Homo sapiens: one gene and its partner. The protein of the gene in region 2 purifies or fractionates together with the protein of the main gene of each other region. This does not show direct contact. Each region holds a gene or a part of one and is shown on either strand. Other genes may lie near its edges.

Region 1 (3,819 bases), about 38 Mb from region 2:
AAAATGCTGGGATTACAGGCGTGAGCTACTGCACCTGACCTTGTTTCTACACTTTAAACCAGCTCCACGGGAGGCCACCTGAGGCCACCTGCTCCAATCCCAGGCAGTGACAATCGTGCAATGTCCCTGGAGCAGGAGTGAGATATCAGATGGACCTGTTCAGGACTGGGGGGGGTCTCACTCCCAGCTGGATCCTTCAAGCCCAGCGCAGCCCCCCAGATTCCACATGTGGGGCGGCAGGGACTCCAGGCCTGAACTATGCATAGCCAGAAGGGTCCATTGCAGGGCTGTGTAGACTGAGGCCCAGAGAGGAGGGCTGAGCAGTCCCAGAGATGCTTGGAGGGACCTCTGTGATAGCCTCGCTTGTGTTTTCCAGGCCCGAGCTGCTCACTGAGGGAGTCAAAGAGCCCATCATGGATAGTCAAGGTACCCAGCGCGGGGTCGGGAGCCATGGTGTGGGCGGGCAAGGGAGGGCCCCAGGCCTCTGCCACCAGCCCCTCCTCCTGCTGCCTCTGTCCTGCTCCCATCCTGGCCCTGGCATTCTCCCCACACCCCCACATTGGGTTTCCCCTAACGATGCCATCTTGGGTCCCAGGAACTGCCTCCTCACTTGGCTTCTCTCCCCCTGCCCTGCCCCCAGAGAGGGATTCCGGGGACCCTCTGGTGGACGAGAGCCTGAAGAGACAGGGCTTTCAAGGTAAGGTTGAGCTCACGGGGAGGTCTGTTGTCCCAGCACCAGGACATTGACCTGGTTTGGGTTTGGAGGGCCAGGCTGGAAGTGGGGAGGAGCTGGCCCCCAACTTCAGGGCCTAAGGGACCAGGCAAGCCAGGTTGGCAGCCCAGGCCCGGCTGTACCCTGCCAGCTCTGTGTTAGAGACTCCAGGGGAGAGGGGGTGCCTACAGGTGGACGGTCGGGGGAGCCCAGGAGCCTGCCTGCCCCCTCCCTGCCCCACCCCCCAGAGGTAGCTGACACGCCCACTCCTTTTTCAGCAATCAGCTGTGGTCTTAGTGCTTTGAAATCAGAATAGGAGCCAGACGCGGCACCTCACGCCTGTAATCTCAGCACTTGGGAAGGTCAAGGTGGGAGGATCGCTTGAGGCTGGGAGCTCGAGACAAGCCTGGACAACATAGAACCCGTCTCTATGTCTATTTTTAAGAAAAGAAATCAGAGGCCGAGTGCAGTGGCTCACGCCTGTAATCCCAGCACTTTGGGCGGCCGAGGCAGGTGGATCACTTGAGGCCAGGAGTTCAAGACCAGCCTGGCCAACATGGTGAAACCCCGTGTCTACCAAAAAAATACAAGAATTAGTTGGGCGAGGTGGCGTGCACCTGTGATCCCAGCTACTAGGGAGGCTAAGGCGGGAGAATCGCTTGAACCTGGGAGGCGGAGATTGCAGTGAGCCGAGATCATGCCACTGCACTCCAGCCTGGGTGACAGAGCAAGACCCTGTCTCAAAAAAAAAAGAAAGAGAGAGAGAGAGAGAGATGGTGGTCTGGGATCCCTCCAGCACATGCTGGCACTTGTCTTTGTTTGTTTGTTTGGATGGAGTTTTACTCTTGTTGCCCAGGCTGGAGTGCAATGGCGTGATCTCAGCCCACTGCAACCTCCGCTTCCCGGGTTCAAGCAATTCTCCTGCCTCAGGCTCCCAAGTAGCTGGGATTATAGGCACGTGCCACCACACCCGGCTAATTTTTGTATTTTTTAGTAGAGACGGGGTTTCACCATGTTGGACAGGCTGGTCTCGAGCTCCTGACCTCAGATGATCTGCCCACCTCAGCCTCCCAAAGTGTTGGGATTACAGGCATGAACCACTGCACCCAGCTTTTTTTTTTTTTTTTTTTTTGAGACAGAGTCTTGCTCTGTCACCCAGGCTGGAGTGCAGTGGTGCGATCTTGGCTCACTACAACCTCCACCTCCCAGGTTCAAGGGGTTCTCTTGCCTCAGCCTCCCAAGTAGCTGGGATTACAGGTACGCACCACCATGCCTGGCTAATTTTTGTATTTTTAGTAGAGATAGGGTTTCACCACATTGGCCAGGCTGGTTTCCAACTCCTGCCCTCAGGTGATCCTCCTGCCTCAGCTTCCCAAAATGCTGGGGTTACAGGCATGAGCCGCCGCGCCCGGTCACACTTGGGCGTTTTTAATGAACACTTTCTGGGTGAGGGTGTCTTGGTGGCTCATGCCTGTAATCCCAGCACTTTTGGAGGCTGAGGCAGGCAGATCACTTGAGCTTGGGGGTTCGAGGCCAGCCTGGGCAACATGGCGAAACCCCATCTCTACCAAAAACACAAAAAAGAAATTAGCCAGGTGCGGTGGTGCACGCCTGTGGTCCCAGCTACTCAGAAGGCTGAAGCAGGAGAATCGCCTGAGCCTGGGAGGTGGAGGTTCCATTGGGAGCCGCCAGGCCCATCCCCTGTGTCTGTGGGGACTGCCCATCCTCCTCCATCTGCTAGATCAGCTGGGCTTCCATTCCCTCGCTTGTCTCCAGCCCCCTAGTGACTTCATGAAGCCCCCGCCCCCTGCCTGCCAGCCCAGGGCACAGGACTCCGTACTCTATGGTGTCCCTCCCCTCCGGGGCTTATTTATTGGTTTGGTGGTTTTCAAATGTCATCAATTAACTTAATTTCCAACTCATCACTGTTGTGGCAACAGTGCATGTCCTTCTGAAAAAAAGACATCTCCATCAACATGTCGGTGCTGAAGGACCTGAGGGGCCCACTCCAAAGATCCTTTAATTGCCGGAGAAGGAGTTCCCCATAATTAGAAAATCATCTTCCTTAAAAGTCACCAAGTGCTTTTTCACTCAACAGCCCAAACCCATAATCGTTTTGCGCTTTGCAGAAAATTATGACGCGAGGCTCTCACGGATCGACATCGCCAACACACTAAGGGAGCAGGTCCAGGACCTTTTCAATAAGAAATACGGTAAGCAGTGCAGAACCCCCGGGGAGGGACACGCAGCTGCTGTGCACAGAGAAGTGGGAGGCTTCCCAGTTCCAGCCGAGGGCATTTCTGGGGAAACAATTCACCCCTTTACATGTATTTCTTGAGCATATACTACGTGCCAGGCACTGTCTCAGGCACTGGGGATATTGCTGTGAATAAAACAGACACAGTCCCTGTACTCATGAGCCTTGCAGACCAATGAGGTGAGATACACTTTCAAGAACTACACACAGAATTTAATAGACAAGGGCCCGGCACAGTGGCTCCTGCCTGTAATCCCAGCACTTTTGGAGGCTGAGGCAGGTGGATCACTTGAGCTCAGGAGTTCGAGGCCAGCCTGGGCAACATGGCAAAACCCCATCTCTACCAAAAACACAAAAAAGAAATTAGCCAGGTGCAGTGGTGCACACCTGTGGTCCCAGCTACTCAGGAAGCTGAAGCAGGAGAATCGCTTGAGCCTGCGAGGGGGAGGTTGCAGTGAGCTGAGATCGCGCCATTGCATTCCAGCCTAGGCAACAAAAGCGAAACTCCGTCTCAAAAAAAAAAAAAAAAAAATGGAGCATATGACATGGGAGCATATTGGTGTGGCTTTTTCTTTCGTTTCTTTTTTTTTTTTTTTTTTTTTTTTTTTTTTGAGACAGGGTCTCACTCTGTCACCCATGCTGGAGTACAGTGGCGTGATCATGGTTCACTACAGCCTCAAACTCCTGGGCTCAAGCAATCCTCCTGCCTCAGCCTCCCAAGTGGCTGGAACTACACCCCACTGGGCACTACCATGCCCAACTAGTTTTTAGAAATTTTTAGTAAAGACAGGGTCTTGCTGTGTTGCCCAGGCTGATCTCGAACTCTTAGACTTAAGAGATCCTCCTGCCT
Region 2 (3,819 bases):
GATAATGTCTCCAAATGTAGATAGTATTACTCTTTGTTCCTTATTCGTATTTTCTTACATGACAAATATTGGACAAGGTTTTTTAAAAGCAGGATTACACTGTTTCAAGAACATCTGGGTGGGGACTATTAAAAAAACTTCTTTAAAAATATTATAACACAAAATAAAAAAGCAATATTTTAATTATATATTTACTTCTGTATTGAAAAATAGTCAATAAAATTGTGTTCAAATTTTATTAACTTAAGGTACATAAATAATAGAAGAAATTATCTATTAATAGGCATTTAAAAAGTTATTAAAATTTAGGTCCATTGCTTTATACCACTGGACACTAGTTGAAGACTTAGATTTACTCCTAGAACAAATATAAAATGGTACTCTAGTACAAAGATGATAAAGCAAGTCTTATAACTAGCAAAATACCATTAATATTGAGAAAGAAAAAATCATCATTCCTATCCAGAAAAGGGATTTCTATCGGGATTTTTGAAAACGTTAGATTTTGCTTCATATATCATCAGTACTATTCTACTAACTTTTTTTCATTACAGTCACAAAAGAGTAAGGAATACATTAAAAAAATTACAATGGAATAAATATCTAACTGTGCATATTACTATTTCCACACATTCTTTCTACAAGGTTGTCATTTCTCACTTTATGTGACATTTCCAAATCTGTTTCCTTCAGTTCTTAAACCTTCAACTTTGTATTAAGTCTTTAACGAAGGAAAATATTTCCTACAAATAGTCTATTTGGAGATTTTTATGTCAAATACTTGAAATTGGGAAAAAACTTTACTTCCACTCTCCTCTCCCCCAGGGAAAGTGTGATGAAAACTGTCATCAGAATTCATTTATGGCAAAGAATTATTTTAAAGGTAGTTAGCTATAAAATAAAAATCAAAATGTAGCAACATTTACAGATTTATACAGATGTCACCACCTTTGTGGGTAAAAGTTATTTTGGAATAAAACTGCAATAAACATTTATTAAACTTCACTGCCAATCCTCTGAATTCCTAGTATTTGTATGGCATTTTTCAGTGTGCAGAGTGTTTTTACATTTTTTTTTTTTTTTTTTTTTTTTTTAGTGCTTCATACCATTCCTGTCAGATGAACAGAAGAGTTATCACTATATACATTTTAGGCAAAGACAGATAATAAGGTTCAGAGTAGTTATAGTGTACCAAAGGTAACAAAGAACTAGACCTCCAGCCTCTCAGGCCCAGAGCACGTTTTACTATATTTCACTATGTTGCTTCAGAGGACACTTTCTTTTGCTTTTTTCCTTTTTTTTTTTTGAGACGAAGTCTTGCTCTTATCCCCCAGGCTGGAGAGCAATGGCCCTATCTCAGCTCACTGCAACCTCCGCCTCCCAGGTTCAAGTGACTCTCCTGCCTCAGCCTCCTGAGTAGCTGGGATTGCAGGTACCTGCCACCACACCTGGCTAATTTTTGTATTTTCAGTAGAGATGGGGTTTCACCATGTTGGCCAGGCTGGTCTCGAACTCCTGACCTCAGGTGATCCGCCCGCCTCGGCCTCCTAAAGTGCTGGGATTACAGGTGTGAGCCACCACGACCAGCCAGAGGACACTTTCTTAACAAAATATTCCCTTTAGGGTAAGATCTTTCCTTAGAAAAGTTATTCATGAATATTTTCTGGTTTCTAGCTAAAATATAAGCTTATCATATTTATCAAAATATTTCAATTTAACTCTGAAGATATTATCACTTGGAATAAAGTTTGTTAAAAATTTGGAAGAAATGCACAAGTTATATTTTGAAAACAGTTTTGAAAAGGAGCTATATTTTATTCATATAAATATTAAGAAAATGTTATGAAGTGAATAGTTATCACTAACTATACTAGATTACTGTACCTGCAGAAGTTGGTGGGAATCACAATAGCATATCCAACAGATGTTCCTCCTAAACAGTTACCCAATTCATGGAAGAGCCCATGAGCCATGGATTCCAATGGCAAAACGATTAGAAACATGCTCAAGAAAATTCCATTTGTTGGCTAAAAGAAATCCAAAACATGTTTACATAGTACATGTACATATGTGTATATATTTACATGCATGCACATTGATTCACATTTTTTAGCTTCTACTTTCAAAAAGGATAAAAGGAACAATTAATGATCTAAAAACAATTTTCAGTTAAAGCAGACACGTATACATGGATGAGCTAACTAGTGCAATAAATCCTAAATTTATCTCTTAGTTTTTTGGAAGTTGTGGCAAAACACGGCACATCATTTTTAAAAAAGAATTGTCAAATAACATCCTATCCAGACGAGAAAAAAAAAAAAAACAAAACAAACCAAAACCACTCTTTGATATAACAGAGAAAATGCCAGAAAACAAATATCTTGTTAAAACCCACATGCCTATGTCATTTTTCAAATAACAGATTTATTTACTTTATCAAAAAGAGTGCTTTAGAAAGGGGTCATTTTTTCCCCATGAAATTATGAAAGTAAATTCTTAAGGAAATTTAAGACCCTAAAGCCATAAAAACTAATTCCGTTTATATGGTATAGTTTACCTTATAAAGCACTGAACTCTCTAGATGTGCAAATTCAAAATTTTAACAGAAGAAAATATTGAGGACACGTAAGCATTGTAAAAGCAGAATGGAAAGTAGACAGGCAGAAGAAATAAGCAGGAGGCAATCAGGTATTAATTGCAATGAAAAAGCAGAAAAAATACTCATTTAAGTGAAAAGAAAATGGATAGTCACTTGAACATACCTTTAGAATATTAAACTATTACTTTTTTCTATATGCTTTCTGTATTCTTTCTCTATTACTTTCTTTCTGTATAAGTTCTTAAGGAAATTTAAGACCCTAAAGCTATAAAAACGAATTCCGTTTATATGATATAGTTTACCTTATAAAGCACTGAACTCTCTAGATGTGCAATCAAAATTTAACAGAAGAAAATATTAAGGACATATAAGCATTGTAAAAGCAGAATGGAAAGTAGACAGGCAGAAGAAATAAGGAGGAGGCAATCAGGTATTAACTGCAATGAAAAAGCAGAAAAAATTAAGACTCATTTAAGTGAAAAGAAAATGGATAGTCACTTGAACATTTCTTTAGAATATTAAACTATTACATTCTTCCGGTATTGCTACTGCACATACTATATGCCTAGGTGCATGAACACATACTTTTAACACTAAGGGGTGGTTCACTTGATCAAAATTTAATAAAAAAATTAATTCCTGCAATAGAAAAATGAATATACTGCCCTATTTTGGTACATCCTATTTTGTCAATGACATAAATAACACAGTACATGCTCCATTTAAAAACACTAGAAAATACAAATAAGTAAAAAAGATATGTGATTAAAATCATTCCAAATACCATCATCTATACGCACAGCTACTCTGAAATATTCCCAGACTTCATGCAATGTATTTTTCACAAATACATATTCATGTGTATGTTTTTTTTTTTTACCAAAATGGGATACATAATCTATCAACATTTTAATTTAAGCTTACATTACTCTAAATCACTTGTAAAGACCAAATGGCATTCCTATGATACATATAAAACTTTAATTAGTGGATCCCATTATTGGTATTTAAATTGCTTACAGTTTGCCATTACACCAAAACTAGAATAAATATCAAGTTCTGATTATTAATGAGGTTAAGTACCTTTCACTATGTGGGTATCATCTTTGATGAAGTGTTAAATATTTTGCCCACCTTTCTATGGGGTTGACCTTTTCTTCACTGATTTAGTTTTGTTTGGTTCTGAACATAGTTTCAATGAAAGTCTTTTGTTGGTGACT

What was found.
Region 1: the proteins of TMEM168 (region 2) and GTF2IRD1 purify together in Homo sapiens (affinity purification with mass spectrometry; one large-scale study listed by BioGRID and IntAct). This does not show direct contact.

The regions. Positions count from the first base shown.
Region 1 is NC_000007.14:74,554,798-74,558,616, forward strand, and holds part of GTF2IRD1 (general transcription factor II-I repeat domain-containing protein 1), read left to right. Parts: intron 1-376; coding exon 377-426; intron 427-595; coding exon of another isoform or gene 596-640; coding exon 641-697; intron 698-2,841; coding exon 2,842-2,925; intron 2,926-3,819. UniProt on the Homo sapiens protein: May be a transcription regulator involved in cell-cycle progression and skeletal muscle differentiation. May repress GTF2I transcriptional functions, by preventing its nuclear residency, or by inhibiting its transcriptional activation.
Region 2 is NC_000007.14:112,773,292-112,777,110, forward strand, and holds part of TMEM168 (transmembrane protein 168), read right to left. Parts: intron 2,028-3,819; coding exon 1,885-2,027; intron 1-1,884. UniProt on the Homo sapiens protein: Plays a key role in maintaining the cardiac electrical stability by modulating cell surface expression of SCN5A. May play a role in the modulation of anxiety behavior by regulating GABAergic neuronal system in the nucleus accumbens.